Regions from separate parts of the Homo sapiens genome. Here all the other regions are linked to region 1. Evidence: fine-mapped expression QTL. A gene starts in region 1. Each other region holds a variant in brackets. All regions are shown on one strand. Distances are from middle to middle. Region 1 holds the start of RALGPS2 (Ral GEF with PH domain and SH3 binding motif 2). Region 2 has its middle 22 kb from the start of RALGPS2. Region 3 holds the start of LOC102724754 (a long non-coding RNA gene). Region 4 overlaps RALGPS2 (Ral GEF with PH domain and SH3 binding motif 2).

What was found. PIP is the estimated chance that this variant, and not a neighbour inherited with it, causes the effect.
Region 2: its variant is fine-mapped to the expression of RALGPS2 in skeletal muscle (GTEx, PIP above 0.99).
Region 3: its variant is fine-mapped to the expression of RALGPS2 in whole blood (TOPMed, PIP above 0.99).
Region 4: its variant is fine-mapped to the expression of RALGPS2 in whole blood (TOPMed, PIP above 0.99).

Annotation. Positions count from the first base shown.
Region 1 is chr1:178,723,221-178,728,373 of GRCh38, reverse strand. It overlaps RALGPS2 (Ral GEF with PH domain and SH3 binding motif 2), which reads right to left and starts at 3,130. Exons shown (of 20, transcript NM_152663.5): 1 at 2,955-3,130. RALGPS2-AS1 (RALGPS2 antisense RNA 1) reads left to right here and starts at 2,090. Exons shown (of 1, transcript NR_187252.1): 1 at 2,090-5,153. RefSeq lists silencers at 2,321-2,550, 2,751-2,870, 3,131-3,300, 3,202-3,356 and an enhancer at 2,191-2,780.
Region 2 is chr1:178,700,228-178,705,380 of GRCh38, reverse strand. No RefSeq gene overlaps it. Among named protein-coding and RNA genes, the nearest start is that of RALGPS2, 22 kb to the left of the region's middle. The variant A/T (reference allele first, on the strand shown) is at 2,710.
Region 3 is chr1:178,935,242-178,940,394 of GRCh38, reverse strand. LOC102724754 (a long non-coding RNA gene) reads left to right here and starts at 1,324. Exons shown (of 3, transcript XR_426873.4): 1 at 1,324-1,578; 2 at 2,319-2,436; 3 at 3,417-3,496. RefSeq lists an enhancer at 726-1,225. The variant G/A (reference allele first, on the strand shown) is at 3,156.
Region 4 is chr1:178,882,599-178,887,751 of GRCh38, reverse strand. RALGPS2 (Ral GEF with PH domain and SH3 binding motif 2) reads right to left here. Exons shown (of 20, transcript NM_152663.5): 11 at 4,219-4,286; 12 at 2,541-2,676; 13 at 1,632-1,783. Among named protein-coding and RNA genes, the nearest start is that of ANGPTL1, 14 kb to the right of the region's middle. The variant G/A (reference allele first, on the strand shown) is at 2,557.

The DNA.
Region 1 (5,153 bases):
TTTAACTCACAAAAGAAAACAAATTTGATTCAATAAATTTCAATTAATAGTTTGGTTTATGGTTTAAAAGTTATTTAAAAATTTCTGAAAAAGCAGATTATCAAGGAATTGGTTCACTCACAGTCAGCCAGAAATAAAAAGGTGATATTTTAAAATTTTAGACCAAAAAAGAAATTTAGATTCCCTTATAAATAAATGCCGAGAGAATATTTTCAGCAAACATTCATTTAACTACATAAACCAAAAGAATAAGGCTGTCTAACCACATGTAAACTACGCATCATCTGACTTCAGGTAGAATGTTTATCTTTGGTATACTTGGTAACCAGAAACCCAAAGTATATAAACATAGGCATATTCTAAAAACAATTGTCTTAATGTTTTTGTTCGCTAGGCAATAATTCCCACAATTCTCAGAAAGAAAAAAACAATATCCTTAACCAAAAAGTTATCAGAGGAGTTTCTACTTCTTAAACTTTTAAACAAACATATTTGCCCACTTATCATTTAAGCCCCATCAGGGCTTAAATGATAAGCCCTGTTGTGTCTCCCCTGTTGTGTCCCCAACCTCTAGGGAACTAACTGGCACCAAGTAGGTACCCAATACACATGTGCAGAATGAACTGAGTCTCTGGAAAAAGCTTAAGTGTTTTAAGTTGCAACAGGACAATTTCACCTATATATCCATCATTCACTACACTGAACTCTAATGACGTAATAAAAAGACTCGTACCAGGTATTTAAAAACACACACAAAAATATATTACTCACATATGTATCTGACTCACAAAGCCAGTTTTTCAGTTATGTTTTCTCTCAGGAAAATTTGTTGTATTCTTTCTAGTATTACTAATAAATATTAGAAAAGCACGTTGTGTTCTGCCAATGCAAGCATTATCTTCAAACTTACGTTGCAATCTGAAAAAATTTAGGCAAACTAAACAGTATTTCCAGAGTCCTGCCCCAAAGTATTACTAAAAGTCAAATTCCTTAATTCAATGAAAAGTGAAATAACGCACAGTGGCGCATGCCTGTAGTCCCAGCTTCTTGGGAGCCTGACACGGGAGGATCGCTTGAGCTCAGGAGTCTGAGACCAGCCTGAGCCAAATAAGGAGAACCTATCTTAAAAGGAAAAAAAAAAAAGTGGAATATAATGGGAAAAACGCACATCTTACCGTTCAAAAATTATGCTGAATTTTAAAAAGAAAAAATGAACTACGCTTAAAATAAATACACTGAAATTGTTTATCCCAAATGGCATTAATGCCCTTACATTTTGATATTTAGATCTGCCTCAAAAGACCTTTGAAGCTACATGATAAACTTCATGCCTACAAAGCTTGAGTTAGAGGTTATCTTTGTTAAAATAATACTGTTTGGATGCTCAGTTTTGGAAGTTTCCTCATAATTCTAAATTAAGATATTTAGCCGTAAGAGTAATACACTTATGTGTATGATTCTATAGCACTTGTTCTATAGCACTTGTACAAGCATAATGATCTTGAGTGGAACAGGCTTTATAATGAGCAAGCTATGATCTGTCTAACAGCGATACTCTGCAAACACGGGCTGAAAAGTTTCCTAAAATTCTGATGGTCATCTTCAAAGAAACTTGAACAGGAATCGATCTAATGGTGGACACAGAAAAATACCCAAGTCAACTCATGAACACTGGTAAGAAAAGGCTCTCTATAGCAACTAAAGTGTTGGGGAAAAAAAATCCAGGGAGCATAAACGATAAAGCTCAATTAACTGCTGCTTGTGTGATTCCACTTTATGGTCTTAAATACACAGTAGGCATTAGATATTTCTTTTGGGGTTTTTTTTTTTTAACAGAAATTTAGTATTTCAATTGCCCCTCCTCCACAGCTAACATCAGTGCCCTTTCTTCCTCCTCCCTTACCCCTCCCAACTCAAACAAATTAACATTTGTACTAGGTACCTCCTATCAGCTCGCAGCTTCTTCCCAAACACGCCCACGTACACTGAAACTGGCTTGCGTCTACACAACACACAGCTACAGGAAAAGAGCTTCGAGGGGGGAGCTGGGGCGGGGGGTTAATAATTCGCTCCGCACAGGTTTACGGCTATTTTCCAGAAACTAGTTCCTCGCTCGTGGCTCGCGTTTCTTCCAAATCACCTCAAAAGCACGGTGTTTATGAGCCTACCTAATCCGATACTGCAATGGAATTCCGGATATTTGCAGACAGATCTCCCGGCTTTGCAAGTGTTTGATGAGATACGTTCGGAATCTCCTTTTTTTTCTAGAGCCCGGTTCCAGGCCGTAGAGCAAGCCGACCTGGGGCTGCGGCCCCTGCCCCACACCCGGCCCGCGCGCCCGGCCCGAGGCCAGCACAGGACGCAGCCCCTCCGGGGCCGGGGCTGGCGGGGGCCGCTCGGGCTGCGGGCCGCTCTGCAACAGGTCACCCTGACCGCGACTCCGCGGGTTCGCGGGCGGCCAACTCTGCGGCCAGGCTTCTGGGCGCAGCCGCCAGGGCCAGGGGAGGGGGTGTGGCCCGGCTTCTGCTGGTCCTGGCTCCGAGGTCCGGGATCGGGCTCACCTGAAGGAAGACTGAGGCGCCGCTGGGCGCCAGAACAGAGCGGGCGGAGGCTGGGGGCTTCCGCCACCCAAGAGGGAGAGCGAGGCGGGTTCAAGGGGTCGCAGCGCCCCCGGCTTCAGGACGGCGCCCCCGAGCGGGGACCCCACGGCCGCTCCGACTCTGAGAACCCGCGGCCGAGGGAGGCGCGCCGCCCAGCGCCCTTCTCCCTCAGCCTCAGCCCCAGCTCCGCAGCCCCCTCCCTGCGCGCAGGGCGAGCAGCCCCGGGGCCCGCGGCCGGGAGAGCCACACTCCGCAGCGCCGCCGCCGCCATTCCCCGCGCCGCCCGGGGGGCGCCGCGTACCCACCCTCCCTCCCTCCCTCCCCCGCACCGCCCCGCGGCCTGAGCCCACCGACCTGTGCAGCCGCGGCCGTCGCCTCAGAGGACGGAAAGACGATGCCGGCCTCACGCTTCACCGCCACGGCCGCCGCCGCCTAGAGTAGCACTCGTCGACCCGAACAGTCACCGTCTCTCATTCAGCGCCCGCAGCAGCCGCCGCCGCCGCCGCCGCTGCCGCTCGGGGGAGGAGAGTGAGCTGGAACCACCCCGTCCGCGCCAGGGGTGGGGGACGAGAGCGGACCTGGCGGGGGCGCGCGCCAAGCGGGCGGGGCGGAGCCGCGCGCGCGCGCGCACCAACGGAGCGCGCTCGCGGGGGCTCTGAGAGCTGCAGCCGTCAGGGTCTTAACCTCGCGCTTCCCGCCCGCAGCTTTTCGGCCCCGCGGAGCCCAACTGCCGCCGGTGATCGGTGCCCGCAGCGCGCGCAGCCATCCGCAACCCCACCGCCCGGCGCCTGCTGAAAGGAGGGGCTCCCACCGGCCAAACAACGGGGGGGGGAAGGGGTAGGAGGATGGACAGGTGGGGCGTCCGCCACCGCCTGGCCACCCGCTCCCGGAACGCGGCCCTCTGTGAAATCCGCCGTGATGTCTGTGGCCTTCAGCGCCGGGCTCTTCACCTTTAAGGCCAGAGAACAAAGTCTGGAAGCACTTGGCCCCAAGATCAAATATCCAGCCCACGCCAGCGGTGTTTTTAGAAGTCACTGAGGACAAATGAGGGGGCTCCCAATGTGGAGAGTCACCCCACTGTCTTAGATAAGGTCATAAATTATGGTGATCAACATCCTCACACATTAAGATTCGGGAAGTGTTAGAAGTAGGCCTTTGTAAGATGTTACGCAGGGTACTACCCTTGACTTAAGGAGCAAATGACAGAAATTGGGCGGAAAGGTGTTGTTTCAGAGTCTACTAAATGGGTGGCCTACTTAAAGCTAGCACCATTTGATGCAGTGTGACTGTTAACGGAAGGTTTTAAGTGAGCCGCCTTTGTATCTGCTGTCATTAGACCATTTGGAAATGGATAATTATTTGATGATCTGCAGTTCTTTCTCTAGGCAATGTGCAGTAGAATGTGGAAAGAATACTATGTACCAGCATTAAGTGTAAAACATGAAAGGACCAATAATTCACTATTCCCATTTGGTTTCTTTCTTCCCTTTAATAACCGCTAAACAGAACTGATTAATCTTGAACGTTGAAGATTGCTAATTATTTCCTCCTTTGATTGCCTTCTGTCATAGCCCTTTTACTCTAGTTGGGGACGCTAGAATGCCCTTCAACCTCCTTCTCTCAAATAGGGTTACTTTAAAGCACCCCAACGCAAAGTTAAGTCAAAAAGAAAAACAGCGAGGATAGGCAACAAAGTTCGTAGTGTTTCATTTTTATTCCATTTTACTTTCAAAGAAAGTCTTGAATCATGACGAAATCACTAGAAGAAGTAGAGCAATCAAAAGAAGAAAAAAAGCGTTCCCCCCCACCCAATATTTCAAATGACAAGAGTCCAAAAAAGAAAAGAAAAAGGAAGATGATTGGTAAAAAGGAGGGAAGTGCATTATGTATACAGAAAGTTTTCGCATAGATGTTAGTTGCTTCAAGTCCCAAATAAACAACAACTAAATGAATTAGCACTTGGAGGAAAAACCCCTTCCAGTTATTGAGTTGGGTAAATGTTTAGTCTTCTTAAAGTGTTACTAAGAGATTAAGGAAAATGTCGTTGGCTATATGCCAACAATAATACATGCAACATACATACCATTATCACACATAATTAACTGCTCTTAAGAAATATGAAAACTGAGGAACGGAACTCTTATGTTGTTAAATGTCATACAATTACTTGAAACTTGAATTAGGGTTTCATAGATATAAATGAGGCAGGGTCCCTACATCTGCCAATAATTTTCACAGCTTATTGTAAAAGCAGTGAAGTTTTCACTTGGACTTTGAAAAGAAAAAAACATATGACTCATGAGCAAGGCCATGGATACACTAAATTCTTATGCCTACTGAATTTGAGTTTGAATAATTACCCCAAATCTGTTTCTCACATTGATAACTTATAAAACAATACTTTTATTAACCTTAAGAGTTGTGTTAAGTTCAAATTTGTGAACTTGGTAAGATTAAGAATTTGTATATAGGCCGGGCGTGGTGGCTCACACTTGTAATCCCAACACTTTGGGAGGCTGAGGCAGGCAGATCACCTGAGGTCAGGAGTGCAAG
Region 2 (5,153 bases), 23 kb after region 1:
GCCGTCTCAAAAAAGAAAAAAAAATAAGAATGCTTTGCAGGGCTCAAGTAGGTGATGAAAACGAATAAATGGTGGCTTTACTATTGGTGGCTTAGATTGGATTCTTTCCTCATAGGCACAACCTATAGGAATGTTCTTCCCATCCACAGAAAAAAGTTATCTCCTATGTTTCTTGATTCTCTCATTCTACCTTTCTCTTCCCAGTTTTGAAACAGATACAAGAAAAGGTTGACATTTCTCATAAAAGACCTATAAGACTGGCAGCAGTGTCAGTGCCAATAGTAACTGGAAATCAGCTCGGGTGCCTTGGTGTGCTGAGGCTCTCTCTGTGGCAACCAGACAGCATGTATCCTCTCTAGAGAGACAAAAGCTTCTCAGACCCAGGTGTTTTTTAGTAGGCAGGCAAGCAGACAGTTCCACTCCAGAGCCTGGACTCTTAACTGCTGTGTTATCCTGCCTGGGTTCAAGTCACACTTGGACAATGTTTTTAACATACTTCATTGTAAATGTATTGACTTTCACAGTTAATTGTTACAGCTGTAAACAAATTAGAAAGATGTCTGTACTTATCAGAACTCCTTCAGTTGCAAGTGCCATGAACCAATTCAAACTATCTGTAAAACACACATGTGTATTGGGATGTAAGGACACAATGTCAGACATGAACTAAATCTAGGGACCCAAGCAATATAATTAAGCCCCCTCTTTCCATCTTTCAGATCTTCTGTTGGTGTGTTGACCTCATCTATTTCTACAGATGAGAAGATAGCACCCCAGATACACATCCTTTCAGCCCATAAATCTCAAAATGAGGACAGGCTTCCACCCTAGCTCCAGCTGAAAAGTACCAGTGAAGGGCTTTGATTGGCTTATTTGGGGTTGTGTGTCCACCCCTGAGCCAATCACTTGACATGAGGAGCTGGATTTCTTTGATTAGCCAGGTCTAGTTTATTTATTTGTCACCATGATGTGGGGAGTAGATGGCAGAGTACTGTGACTGATAACCCCGCCATGCTCTAATAAAGTTGGATGGCTCTGGGCAATCAAAACTATAGCTGTCTCCTGTAATGTTCAATGTTATCTCCAGCTTGAAAATTAGGGAAATTAAAGAGACAAATTATAGCTTACATTGGATAACTCAAAAAGCCAAAACCAGCTTTAGGATAATCACTTTGTGTACTTAGCATATGCCTTATTGGCTATGACAAATGTCTAAATAAAAAGTGAAAAATTCATTCAATCATAAAGATGTTTCAAGATATTAATTTTGGTGTCTTACAAATATATAGGTAATTGACTGACTCTTTTTTTAAAATCTGGTTGTTTTAATACTATATAAACCCAACTTAATGCCATTCAGAATCTAGAACATGTAACCCTGAATCGTAATTACATAATTAAAAAAACATTGGATTTTAATAGGCAATTTATTGTCTTGCCATATCATGTTTCCACTCGACAAGCTAGAGCTAAACCAGAGAACTAATATAAGATAGAAAGGAGAAATTGCATTGCCATTACATTTCCATAATAGAGTTGAACAAAGAACTAAAATCAAGATATGCTTTATTTAAAAATTTGAAAATCATTGAAGTCTTTGTAAGTCTTTGCTATAATTTTCCATCACATTTAATTGGTATTTTATACAATGAAATACAAAAATGTCAACGAATTTTCTCTTCAAAGTTAATGCCTTGTCTGTTTCTCTTTCATCATATTCATTATCAATAGAGTGTGTTAAATCTCCAAATTCTCAGTTGTAATATGCTATGCAAAAGTAAAATAAACATTTAATTTTATATTGTTAAGTCAGATTTATTTCTCTACTTGCTAACAAAATAAATTTATTGAAGTTATACCATAAGCCAGGCCTTCATGCTAAGCATTGTTCACATATAACCCTTTTAATCCTCACCACAATCTTAAGAGAAAGAGACCATTTTACAGGTGAGGAAATAGGCACTGATGTAATCCTTAAAACAATCATCTGGGGTAGATAACATTTTAGTCCTCTACACTGATGAGAAAACTAAGGCTCAGAGTGGTTATGAAAATTACCCAAGTTCACAGAGCTAATAAGGGATAAAACTGAGATTTGAACTCAGGCAGTCTGGGTTCAAATCTCAGTTTTGGCCGGACATGGCGGCTCACGCCTGTAATCCCAGCACTTCGGGAGGCTGAGGTGGGTGGATCACTTGATGTCAGGAGTTTGAGACCAGCCTGGCCAACATGGTGAAACCCCATCTCTACTAACAATACAAAAATTAGCCTGGCGTGGTGGTGCGCTCCTGAAATCCCAGCTACTTGGGAGGCTGAGACAGGAGAATCACTTGAATCCAGGAGGCAGAGGTTGCAGTGAGCTGAGATTGCACCACTGCACTCCAGCCTGGACAACACAGTGAGACTCTGCCTCAAAAAAATAAAATAAAAAAAAAAATCTCGGTTTTATCCCTTATTAGCTCTGGTTTTGTGCTTACACTCTTAATCACTATTGTTTTACCTCTTCCAATTACTTAATAGTATATATAATATCAAATATACAACCTATAACCGATGGTAGTTAATGCTTAACCATAAAACATGTGTTAAACCTTGTTTTAGGATCCCCTTGGTCAAATTCTTCTCTATAGCTCTGTAGTTACCATAGCACCACTCTTCCCATATTCTCTTTTTGGAAAAAAAAAAAAAGTGGAAATAACTAATAGTAAC[A/T]ATTATTGTTTTCAAGTAAAATATGCCAAGATCTGTGTGTGCTTTTCTCAAAAAGACGAATTTCACAGTATTGCAATAATACAACATGGAATGCTTACATGTGCCTGTGGAAAAACTCTATGACCCAACTTGTGTCAGTTTCTTGTTTAATACTACAATAAAGAGCAGAGAAGGATCTGCTTATTAGGTCATTTGGACCCACCTCCAAATAGAATTAAGACTGGGACCTCTCCATAACTAATCATTTTTGCACCAAAAAGAAGGTCTCACTCCCTCTGCCTTTGAAGCAGCTGTTTGTGGGCAAAAATTCTTGTGTCTTGCGTAAGTCCCTTTCCAAAAAGTAAATGTGACACATCCAGGCTTGCTTGCATATATAAAAGTGAGGGGTGGTGGAGGGGAGGGAGACAGGGAGAAAAAGTATCACAGGCAGCAGCTAAAATCTTTGCGACTTTGTAGAGTTTGTTTAGACTTCTTTTGTGACAAGATTGCAGCCTGAAAGGGCCCCAACTGGAATGACAATTTTGTTCCAGGGAGGCCTCCTTAAGGATTAATCAAAGCACCTTAAATCCATGGGTCTTCCTACCTTTTAATGTTTTACCTATATTTCTGTTAAAAGTGAAGTTTGAAGTTAGAAACAGTGTTGGTTTCATGTTGGGATGGTATAAATTCAGAACATTTGAAGCAGTACAGGTAAATAATTCTTATTCTTTTAAATGAAACTATAATATTTTAAAGTATAAAATTTTAAAAGCATTTAATAAAACTAGTAAAAATTGTATGTGATTTATTTTAAAATTGGCATGATTTGTTTGATAAGTGCACCAATATACTTCAAATAGCATATAACCATATCCAAATATATATCAAATATGATATATTCAAGGCATATCATAAAAGTATTCTAATTTTGATTGTCACCTGATTTTAGTTTATAAAATATTTAATATATGTTCTCTTTTATTAGCAAGAAGTAAACTTATTTAATTATGATGAAAACTGTATATGTCAACTTAAATATGTGCAAGAGAACACATTTTTCAAAATTCTTATATAATATGCATAAGCTAAAAGCTTAAAGATCACTGCTCTACAGAATAAATTCCTGACTTTCAAAACCCTTCATAATCTGACCCCCTACTACCTCTTCAATTTTGGTCTTTTTCACATGTTTATGTGAGGTTTTAAAAAATCTTAGGTAAGATAAATGAAAATTTAAAAAATCATATTTACACATCTAGTGTAACTGCAGAACAGCAAAGTGAAAGAGATCTCAAAAAAAGACAGGGGGCGGGACACATTATCTTCAGAGGAATGAAAATTAGACTAAACAGCACCAGTGAAAGCCAGAAGGTGGTAAATCATATCTTCACTGGGTTGAGAGAAAATAATCTTCAACCTAAAATTGTATAGCCAGCAAAAAATCTTTCCAGAATTTGAGTTTGCCAATTTACTGAAGAAAATTCTAAAGAATATATTTCAAGCAAAAGTAACATAATTTCAAATGGAAAGTCTGAGATGCAAGAAGAAATGAGCAAAAACATGGTAAACATGTGAGTAAACATAAATCTAAACTAGATGAAACTATAACGACACCTTGTGGGGTTCAAAATCAATAAAGAATAAGTGCACATCTGCAATAACATATAAGTCAAGGGATAAATAGAAATAGAATGTTCAAATGTTCTTATGTTATTTAAGAGGGAAATAAAGGTATTGATAAATGTTAGAATTTGATAAATCAAGTAGGCAGACTAAAATGCCTTAGTCACTAAAAGAATAAGATTAGAGTGTATAACTTCCTAATTATTATAAGAAAAAACAGATGGGAGGAGAAAGATATATTCAATCAGTCTAAAAAAAGACAAGAAAAGATAGAAAAAAACACAGTGGAAGAAAAAACAAGACAAATAACACAAAATAAGATGGTAGAAATAAGCCAAAGATAGCCACAATTAATACAATTAATATATAATTATATAGTAGTAACCTATATTATGCCAGATAACACAATATATTTATTCATTCTCTTCATATAGTCCAACTAAATTACTAATAAATATCAAGGAGATAACTAGTAAAAACTCACCCATTTGAAAATTAACAAACACATTTTGAAATAGCTCAGAGAGCAAAGATGATAATGAAAACGAGAAAATATTTGTAATTGAATCATAATGAAAATACTGCAGTAGTACTCAGACAAAAGAAGAAAGTTTGAAAGTTAATGAGCCAAACACCCAGCTAAAGCAGCACAGATCCAAGGAAAGTAGAAAAAAGAAATAATTCAGTTAAGAAAACAGAAACTAATGGGAAAAATACATTAGATAAAATCAACAAAGTCAAAGTTTTCTGAAAAGATGAGTAAAATGGACAGAATTCTGGTAGCTTATCAAGAAAAAGAAAAGAGAACATCAATAAACAATACTGGGAATGAAAAAGGGGCC
Region 3 (5,153 bases), 210 kb before region 1:
TGCAATAACAAGAGTCATTGACCCTAAGGCATTGCAGACTTCTATCCAATAGAATCAGACCCAGTCATGGTTCAAAGACTTGAGGAAACGGCAGGACTTTTGGATAATCTTCTCAAGCCCAGTGGAGGCTTTGCCTTGGGTGATGGATGGTGAGGAGCCACGTCAGTGGTTGAATCATTGCATTAACACGTCAAGGCTCAGGCTTTCTAGCTGGCCATTGGAACTGAGGATGTCATTAGTCTCTTAGCAAGGTTAACTTTGGGTAATACGAAGAAAAGGGATTATGAACTCTTGGAATCAGCATTCACCTTCTTAGAGAAAGAAAAGAAGGCGAAGACGAAAAAGAGTGCCTCCGATTCACGTTAGAGCTTTGAGTCCAAGAATTGTAAACATGTATAGGCTGCCAAATCTCACTCTAAATATATTCCAATGATCTCATGTTTTCATATGCAGTGGAATAAAAAGAGGCATTTTTATTCATTTTGGATGACAGCATCTTGAGCTTTTATGGGAGTGTTGTAGGAGTATTAGTTTAACCAAGAGCTGCAATCAATATTTCAACCATTCAGAGTCACCACAACAGGCACGTTAGACACTGAATGACAATTATCTTGTCATTGCAAGTTGGACCCTCAAACGTGTTCCCAAATATTGATGGCAAATCCCCCACCCCCAGGGGGAAAATCCCCCATCAAAGATCCTCTGAGGAGAGCCAAGCGAGGCACTGGAGAGAGCAGTGCACATATTTCGAGGTGATTAACATTTCGGTTTTGGCCTCCTCATCTGCAAGGGCTTCGTCTGTTACTCGTTTTCTCTTTGGCCAAAGAGACCACATCCAGTGTCCCGAAGGAGAAGGCTGGAAATTTTTCGGAAAGCCCTTTTAGGAGAAGCCCAGTGAGAGGGCAAGCAAAGCTTCATTCCTTTTATGGCCAAGATCTCACAGTGTGAGACACAAAAAAGAGAGCAAGAGCAAGAGAGCTGGAGAGCATGTTGTCTCTGTTCCTCTGCTCCCGGGGCTGTGGCGTCCACATGGTCTCCAACCTTGAGCTGAACACAGTTGATACAAAAACCAGGGACCCTTTCAGTGGCCCCTGGGGTGACGGGAGAGTCCAGCACCCCACTTCCCCTCACCCTCGGGGTTAGCCTTCACCCCGCTCTGGCATCTTCGTCCCAGCCCTGCGTGCACATAAATCAAGCAGCAGGGTAGCTCGGAAACATGACGAATACCTTGGCTGGCTCCTGCTTGAAAAGACAAGGGGGGAGAAGAGGGATTCTAAAGTAACCCGGCCTTGACTGGAAACGCAGCCAGAATTTAGTGTTCCTGGAGCTGGCCCCAGCTGCTCAGACAGGAGCTGCCAGGGGAGACTTCCCTGGGGGCAGCCCCAGCCCTCCACGCTCTGGAGGAGGAAAAAGCTTTGGTGTCTGTCAAGAACATTATTCAAAAATTCTTGGACACTTCTAAGCCCTTTCTGTGAGCATGGAGACAGGGGGTTGAGGGAAGCTTTGCCTAGGCTGGGATGGCACTTGGGTATAGCCCCAGGTTTGAGTGCTGCTGTATTCATGGACAGTGCCCCAGAGGTGGGTGTGTGATGCCTGTGTGTGTGTGCATGTGCATGCGTGTGCATGTATGTAGGGGACCGGTGAGGCAAGACAGCCCACTTAAGGACACGGTTTTAAGTACACTGCCAGCTTTCAGTCTGGGGGCCTGTGAATGTTGTGGCTGTTGGCTTCTCCCTTTCTCTGTTTCCCAGTTCCACCAGCTCCCAGTGTCTCTGGTCTCTCCATTCATTCTTTTCAGTGGGTCAGGCCCCTGCTGGAATGACTCTTCAAGAGTCTGCTCTGCCCACCCTGACCAGGGGCTCCCAGTAGGGAAAGCCGAGGGTTCTAGGCGTTGCCCTCCTGCCTCCTCTGTCTGCCAGGACCACTGCAGGGGGCTCCTGAGTGTCCTGGCTCTCCTGTGAGGTGCCACAGAGGCAGGACTGCGTAAGGGACTAGTTCAGCCTTCAAGGAGCTTCAGTCGAGAGATTCTCTTTGTTTTGTTCTTGAGGGTCATGAAGAGATCATTCCAGCTGTCACCGACAAGAGATTCTGGGAGGCACCTGAACACAGTGGAGGGCCACAGAGAGTCTTCTTCCACAGAGAGCTCTGTAGGGATGAGGCCTCAGATGTGACAGGCTCTGAGCACGGGAGTATTAGAGGCTGAGAAGGGCTGCCTCCCTAAAAAACATTAATCGTGTTAAAATATTCACTGCCCTCTCCAAAATCTCAACACTTAAAAGCATTTTTTACGTTTCTTTTCTTTTCTTTTTTTTTTAAAGGAAGAAGCACCGTGGGGACTCTCACTGCAAAGAAGACAGACCATTATCAACACTCCTCCCCTCTGTTCCCCAAAGTCCCCTCCTGACCGCAGCATCAATCTTCCACGCTGGCCGGCCGGTAATTAGCTTTCCTCAGGGCAGGGGCAGATCACCAGCTCAGGCCTCCATCCAGGGGTTTCCTGTCCCCAAAGTTGCACTAATGCAAATCCATTTTTCATTAGGAGAAAATAAAACTCACAAGTGACATCAACTGAAAAATGTTTTTTGAGAGCAAGTTATTTCCATTTAAAGCTAAGCACATGACAGCTGGTGACTTTTAATGGAAAGTAAAATTTGCTGGGCTGAATTACTATCAAACCACTTGAGAATTTGTTTCTAATTTTCCTTTTTGGAGGAAGGCAGTGCTCTGGAGTCCAGCAGAGCAGATGAGGAATGGAAAGGTCTGGTCTCATCTCTAATTGCGGCCTCAAAAGACCCTGGACAATCCTCAGTAAAATCATGTCCCAAGATTTAGTTACATTAATTTTCTTTACTCTGTACTTGAAACTCATTTAATAAGCTGGTTAGAAAACAAACTTTCTGTACCACCTTTTGTTTGGGCCCCCAAAACCAAAATGGTTGTATGTGTACTGAAAACTATCTACGGTTGGCCAGGCGCGGTGGCTCACGCCTGTAATCCCAGCACTTTGGGAGGCCGAGGCGGGTGGATCATGAGGTCAGGAGATCGAGACCATCCTGGCTAACAAGGTGAAACCCCGTCTCTACTAAAAATACAAAAAATTAGCCAGGCGCGGTGGCGGGCGCCTGTAGTCCCAGCTACTCGGGAGGCTGAGGCAG[G/A]AGAATGGCGTGAACCCGGGAAGCAGAGCTTGCAGTGAGCCGAGATTGCGCCACTGCAGTCCGCAGTCCGGCCTGGGCGACAGAGCGAGACTCCGTCTCAAAAAAAAAAAAAAAAAAAAAAAAAGAAAACTATCTACAGTTTCTCCACTTAATAGAAAATATCTGGTATAGCAGAACCTGGTGGGCATTTGCTATGGACTGAATGTGCCCCTGCCATTCATATACTGAAGCCCTAACCCCCAGTGTGATGGTATTTATTAGGAGGTGGTGCCTCTGGCAGATTTAAATGAGAGCATGAAGGTGGGACCTCCATTACTGGATTAGTGTCCTTATAAGAAGAGGAAGAGACCAGAGCTCACTCTCCCCACCACGTGAGGATACAGTGAGAAGGTGGCTGTCTGCAAGCCAAGAGCCCTCACCCAAACAGAATCTGCTGGTATCTTGATGTTGGATTTTCTAGCCTCCAGGACTGTGAGAAATAAATGTGTGTTGTTTAAACCACCCAGTCTATGGTATTTTGTTATAGTAGCTAGGGCTGACTACAACTGAAGTAGGCTAGAAGGAACTCTGTTATCATGAGCTCCAGGGATGAGCTGTCTATACACTTGTGCTGCATCAGACATGAAAGAGGAGTGGTGTGAGACTTGCTTTTCTGTGCATCCTGTTTCAGAGCAATATAAATTCAGTTCCTCTTATCTTCCAGAATCTTCTAGCACTTCTGGAATCTATAACATATGTCTGTATGGATAATAGCACCTCTGGAATTTGGGGACAAGGTCAAAGGGTGTCGGGATTTGAAGGGGAAGCCATAAGAATCTTCACAATATAAATTGAGATTAAACACTTGCAGATGCAACCCATCCTTGGGGTGGTTTTGCAAACATATTGCTGAGGATTTCATGGTTTGCTACATCAAGATTAGATACCCAAAGTTTATTGGAAGATTAAATTACAAAAAGTAATGACAAGGTAAGTTGTAATAAGTCATGTTATTTGATGAGAAGTAAAGATAATTAAAGGCATGAAAGAGTCTGTAAGGAGCCTAGAAGAAGAGAGGTGAAGAGTAAGAATCTAGCTAGTGTTTCCCCAGGGGTGTCAGGGAATGGCAAAAATGTTCCAGACTGTACCAACGATCTGAGCCACACACTCCTGAAGACTTCTTTTACCCTGATTCCTGTTTAACAAGTAGTTTTCTAAATGCTAATTCAGTTTTTCTGGTACACAGCAGAAAGGGGTCCCCTGCATAGTAATTAGAAAGGTGTGTCTCTGATGGTACATTACTTCAACTGGCATGCTGGTTTTCCCGTCAGTCTACTATGGGAGTTTGGTTGGCAAGAGTCCATTCCTTGAGGCCTGGTCAACGTTGTGTGGGCTGATTACAACATGGGGTTTCTGAAACTTAAAAGTTAAGGGCCCGATCTGGACCCAGGCCTCTACCAAGCCACAGATGACCTTTGAGGCTCCGCTTGATCAGGCAGCCAGCCATGGAACATCATCATGTGGCAACTCCACACCCACAGCTATCATGGCTCCCACTTGCGGACACATTACTTTGTATGTATTTTGTCTTTCTTAAACAACTCCTTGCTCCCATTTCTTCTCCCTCAAATTGTGAGATTTTCTGCTGCAGGGCCTTGTCTCTCCTCTTTCATACATTAAATGTGTAAGATCTTGACCACAGGGACACTCAATATATTGAATGACTTTGTTGGCAAAGATATTTGAAAAGATGATAGGTGCAAATATAATTTATTTATCTTCTTTGGAATCCAGCTGTAAAATACATAGTTAAAATAGAAGCTAAAATGTTCTGTTGTTTGATCTTCAGCTTCTGTCTAAATTGAATTGACTCTCCATCCCATCCTACTTCCTTAGAGACAGACAAGAAACTCCTGTCACCATGCTTTTCTGTACTCTGTCCTACGACTTTGCTTCCATTTAATTTGTCCTCTACTTGTCATTAAGATGTTATTTGGGGCTGATTAGAGTTTGCACCTG
Region 4 (5,153 bases), 160 kb before region 1:
CACTTGTATTTTTATATAAAAAGGGGACTATCAGAATAAACAACTACTGAATGGTAATGGAGAGCTCTGAAATAATTTAATTTTAACTCTCAAGGGCTAAGAAAGTCAGTATGTTCCAGAAAATCAATCTCCTTTTGCATCTCCTTCTACTGGCTGTTTACCAATATTAAGATATTAGTAACAATAGGCTTAGTCCTTGAACAATCTGGTAGTTAATCATAGATGAAGACATATTCCTCCTTTATTTCTTTTTAAAAATAAAAGTAGCTATTATATGAACAATTTCTTTCTTTTTTTGAGACAGAATCTCGCTCTGTGATCCAGGCAGGGTAGTGCAGTGCTGCGAACATGGCTCGCTGCAACCTCTGTTTCCTGGGTTCAAATGATTCCTATGCCTCAGCCTCCTAAGTAGCTGGGATTACAGGCATGCACCACCACGCCCTGCTACTTTTTGTATTTTTAGTAGAGATGGGGTTTTGCCATGTTGGCCAGGCTCATTTTGAACTCCTGACCTCAAGAGATCTGCCCATCTGGGCCTCCCAAAGTGCTGGGATTACAGGTGTGAGCCACACTGCCCAGGCTATATGAATAATTTCTAATTGTAACAAGAAATAATGCTCATCTAGAAGACTCAAAAATTAAAAGTTTAGGAAGTAAAAACAAACAAATCCCTCTCTTAATCTCACATCCCTTTCTAATATGGTCTCTATTTTCTGCTCTCCTTCACAGTAGCTATCTCTGTTTCCTCACCTCTCATTTTCAAATCTACTCCAATCCAGGCCATGCCCTGACACTTCCATGAAGCAACTCTTATCAAGGTCACCAATGACTTTTATCTTGCCAAATCCCCCAGTCAATTCCCCATTCTCATCTTAGCTCTCTTGTTCTGCATTTGATATTCACACATTCAGTACTTTCCTCCTCCTTGAGATACTTCATCTACTGGGCTTTTGTTTTTTTCCCCTTACTTCACTGATCTCTCCTTTTTAGTTTCCTTTGATGACTCATCCTTCTTTTAAAAAATAATCAGACTTCTAAATGTGAGAATGTTTTTTTATTTATGTACACTCTCTCTTTAGGTACCCTCAACCAATCATGGCTTATAAATATGCTACCTCTCGTATATCTTCAGATCTGACCTTATCCCCGAGCTCCAGATTCACATATTCAACAACCTACCTGACATCTCCATAGGGACTAAACATGTCCAAAACACACCTGATTCCCCAAATTCACAAACGCTTCACTGCCCACAGATTATTACTCTGTCTTCTCTACCTTGGTAATAGCATCATCATCTAACTATTATACTTGTTTAACCCAAATAACCGGAAGTCATTCTTGACTCCACACTCTTCCTCCTCCCCATATCCAAATCACATGCAGTTAACTAATTCAACCAGCCCATATGTTCTTTTTCCACCTTCTTCAAATGCTTCCCCTTCTGGAGTTAAAAACAGCAAGCACTTTTAAAACCATCACAAATTATTAACTTCATCCCATATTTAACTGCTACTTTGTTTTTTTAACCAAATTTTCTCTGTGTGTGGGTGGGGTTTTTTTCCAGCCAAGTTTTATTAACATTTTTATTTAAAGTTAAATTGCAACCCTCTCAGAGAAGTATTTCTCACCTATTGATATTCCACTAGAAAGAGTAGAACTTTCAGCTTGGCCTCGAGATGGCGCATGGGGCTCCATGACGCTATCATCTAACAGATGTCTTGGTCCTGCATTTGGAAACGTTGCACTCTTAAATTCTGCTGTGTTCATTTTATGAATGAAACTAGAAACAGAAAAAAAAGTTCATATCTTTTATTATTGTTACTAATTTAAAAACTGCTCTTTATATAAAGATTTAGGACATAAAAGATTTACCTAACTGTCATACTCAGATCTTACCATAAAAGCCTCAAATGAACAGTTTAGGGAAAATGTTTTAGGAAACCTGGCCCTATCTATCTATATAATTAGAGCATACTTTAAAATAATTTCATTTTAAGCCTCGTGTCCGTTTAAAAAATTGTTTCCACATTCACTTTTGGAGAACAGTTATTACATTTCCAGAGAAATCATGGCAAAAGTGAACATGTGTCCCCATTTTGAAAAAACAATACTGCAAAACTAATGAAGTTAAACAAAAAGTCAGTTTTCTTTATATTTAGGAATAAAGAAAATAATTTTTATAGCTGTTATTTTTGACTTATTTTGGTTAAGACAAACAATGACTGTCTTGATATAAAGGTTGTAACTCTTTTAAAAAGGTATATTGCTATCCTGATTTTATTTATGATGGCCCTCTGTAATGTTCATTTATCGTCCCCAAATATAAATGCATTGTTGACAAAATCCCATTTCCAAATTCAGGTAAAGTAAGAAATAAAAGCTTTTAGGCAAACAAGGCATTTTACTGAATCAGAAAACAGCTATTAAGAAAAAAGAAAACTATTCAAGGATACCATTTTCTACTGAACTAATAAATCGACAATAAATCCAATTACAAAAGACTTAAAAATTTGAAAGATAAAATTAAAAATGCTGACTTATAACCCAAACTAT[G/A]GCACTTCCTATGTCCATGTGGAATCAGATTCCGAGGGGATGGCGGTGTCTGTGGGAGCAAGGCTCCTTCAGCTGCCACACTTTTTCGTCCACTCTGTGGAGACGCTCCTACTTCAGGACCTAAGGGTTAAATTTAAAGAGATTTTCAAATGATTACTTTATTTTTCAGTCCCTTGAAAGAAAATATTAAATGTGGTTCAAATTTTGAGATAGTACTGATGTTAGTTCTATTTAATTGGCTTGAAGATGAGAAATATATCTAAGTCCTAAAACACAAAATCCCAAACCATACAAAATCCATTAATTTTTATCTTACTTATACTAAGTAGAGGCAGTGTAAATATTTTCTCCATTTACATAGGAAGAAGTAGAATTAGAAGAGACTAGCTTTCACATCACAGACAAAATCTGGACTAAACACACAGGTCTTCTGAGTCCTAGGTTCAGTGCTCTTTTAATTTTATACATTACTTCTTTACTCCTAGTTTCAACTTCCTCTTAGATAAAGAATGTGTAGGGTAGGTCAAACACTCAAATCAGAAATTAAATCTACACTGACACTGTTCAGGCTTATGGGAATAAATAAAAGAATATTATAAAAGTGCAAAACAGCACTTTAAGAATAAAAAGAAAAGCAAATTTAAGAAATTTAAACTGCAATGTTTTTTCTGCTTGGAATATTCTTCCCCATAGACATTGTCATGGTTTGTTTCTCCACTTCACATCTTATCAGATTAGCCATCAAATATTTTTAGAATATACATGAAACTTAGTGCGAAGGCCTATATTGGGAATTTTAAAAAAGGTACTTATCAGGGATTTCTTAAATAATGATAATTTTATGTTTTTTAAAAAATTATTTGTGGTATATGCATAATATCCCCATTACAATGTAACAGGTAAAGTAAGGAACTATGATTTTTACATTTTTAATACTTGGTCTAGTATTAAAGTGAACATTTGAAAAAATTACGTCACTAAAATTGACTTCTATAATTATTCAAATTAGTAGACTTTCCCATTAGACCACAGAAATTTCTAGTGTAATCAACCTTCATTGCCTAGGACAGTGCATTCTTAATCAAAAATGAATATTCATAACTACTTATCTATTATTTTCCATCTGTTGCATCTATCTATTTTCCTTGATTAGGTAGCATACTTGTTTGTACACTACTGACAAACTATAGCAACATTTTTTTTTTTTGAGATGGAGTCTTGCTGTGTCACACAGGCTGGAGTGCAGTGGCACGATCTCGGCTCATTGCAAGCTCTGCCTCCCGGGTTCACGCCATTCTGCTGCCTCAGCCTCCTGAGTAGCTGGGACTATAGGTGCCCGCCACCACACCCGGCTAATTTTTTTGTTATTTTTTTAGCAGAGACGGGGTTTCACTGTGTTAGCCAGGATGGTCTTGATCTCCTGACCCTGTGATCCGCCCGCCTCGGCCTCCCAAAGTGCTGGGATTACAGGCGTGAGCCACCCTGCCCGGCCAGCAACTTTTAAATTAAAAACCAAAAAACCCAGAAAGGACAGATTTTAATATCAAAATAAATTTTACATGCAGTATAAGATGTACTAAGTTTTTATTTACTTTGGAGTATATTCTTCCTTATTAGGTTATCTGATTTAGATTTGGTAACAAGAGAAAACTACGTACTGACCTACTAAATCTTCTCTGGAAGCAGCAGAACGTGGGGTGCTTGTCCCTGGTTCTATCTTTAATGAAAGCCTGAATTTTAAAAAGACAAAATACATACAATGATTAATTAACATTTGACAAAATAAGATTAAAGTTGTGTATTTTCTCACAAAAAAACTAAAAACATTTTTATGAAATAATCTGACCTATATACTTTTCTTCAAGAGCAATCTTCTTCTTTTTAAGAGACAGGGAATCTCACTTAAGCCTCAAACTCCTGGGCTCAAGCGATCCTTCCATCTTGGCCTCCCAAAGTGCTGGGATTACAGGCATGAGCCACCAAGCCTGGCCAAGGGCAATTTTTAATTAAGATGTTAAGTCTCTTATCTCTTTCATACAAAGCTGATCTTATGGTTATTTTAGGAAATATTAGGAAGGGAAAATACATTAAAAAGTTGTATTTAAAAACACAAAAATCTCCCCAATTACCCCAAAGTTGCCAAACCATGGAACACATTTAAAGATATTTGATGAATGACTAAATGATGATTCAACTTAGAGCTTACACTGATACTTTACATTTAAATTCAGAAACTTTCATATGTATTATTAAATATATTATGCAAATTATTTCTAAAAACACCTTATTTAAAACTAACCATCTAACAAACCAGCTGACAGAACTCTTCAGCAGAAAGATCTATACAAATAAAAATGTTGTTTGCAAAATTCCTAGTAAGTCCCTGTCCTAAGTCAGAGTTTATTATATGGTACTTAAGTTTCATTTAGGATAATATATCCAGTTCTGAGTTTCACAGTGAAAGAGATTATGATTTCTATCAGTGGAAGCTATTTCAGAAAACAGGACACTAAAGTAGTTGTAGAAAATGCTTTGGTGTAATACACGAAGCTTAATATTGCGGAGTCTGTCTGAAATTTAATAAAAACTGTTTAGTA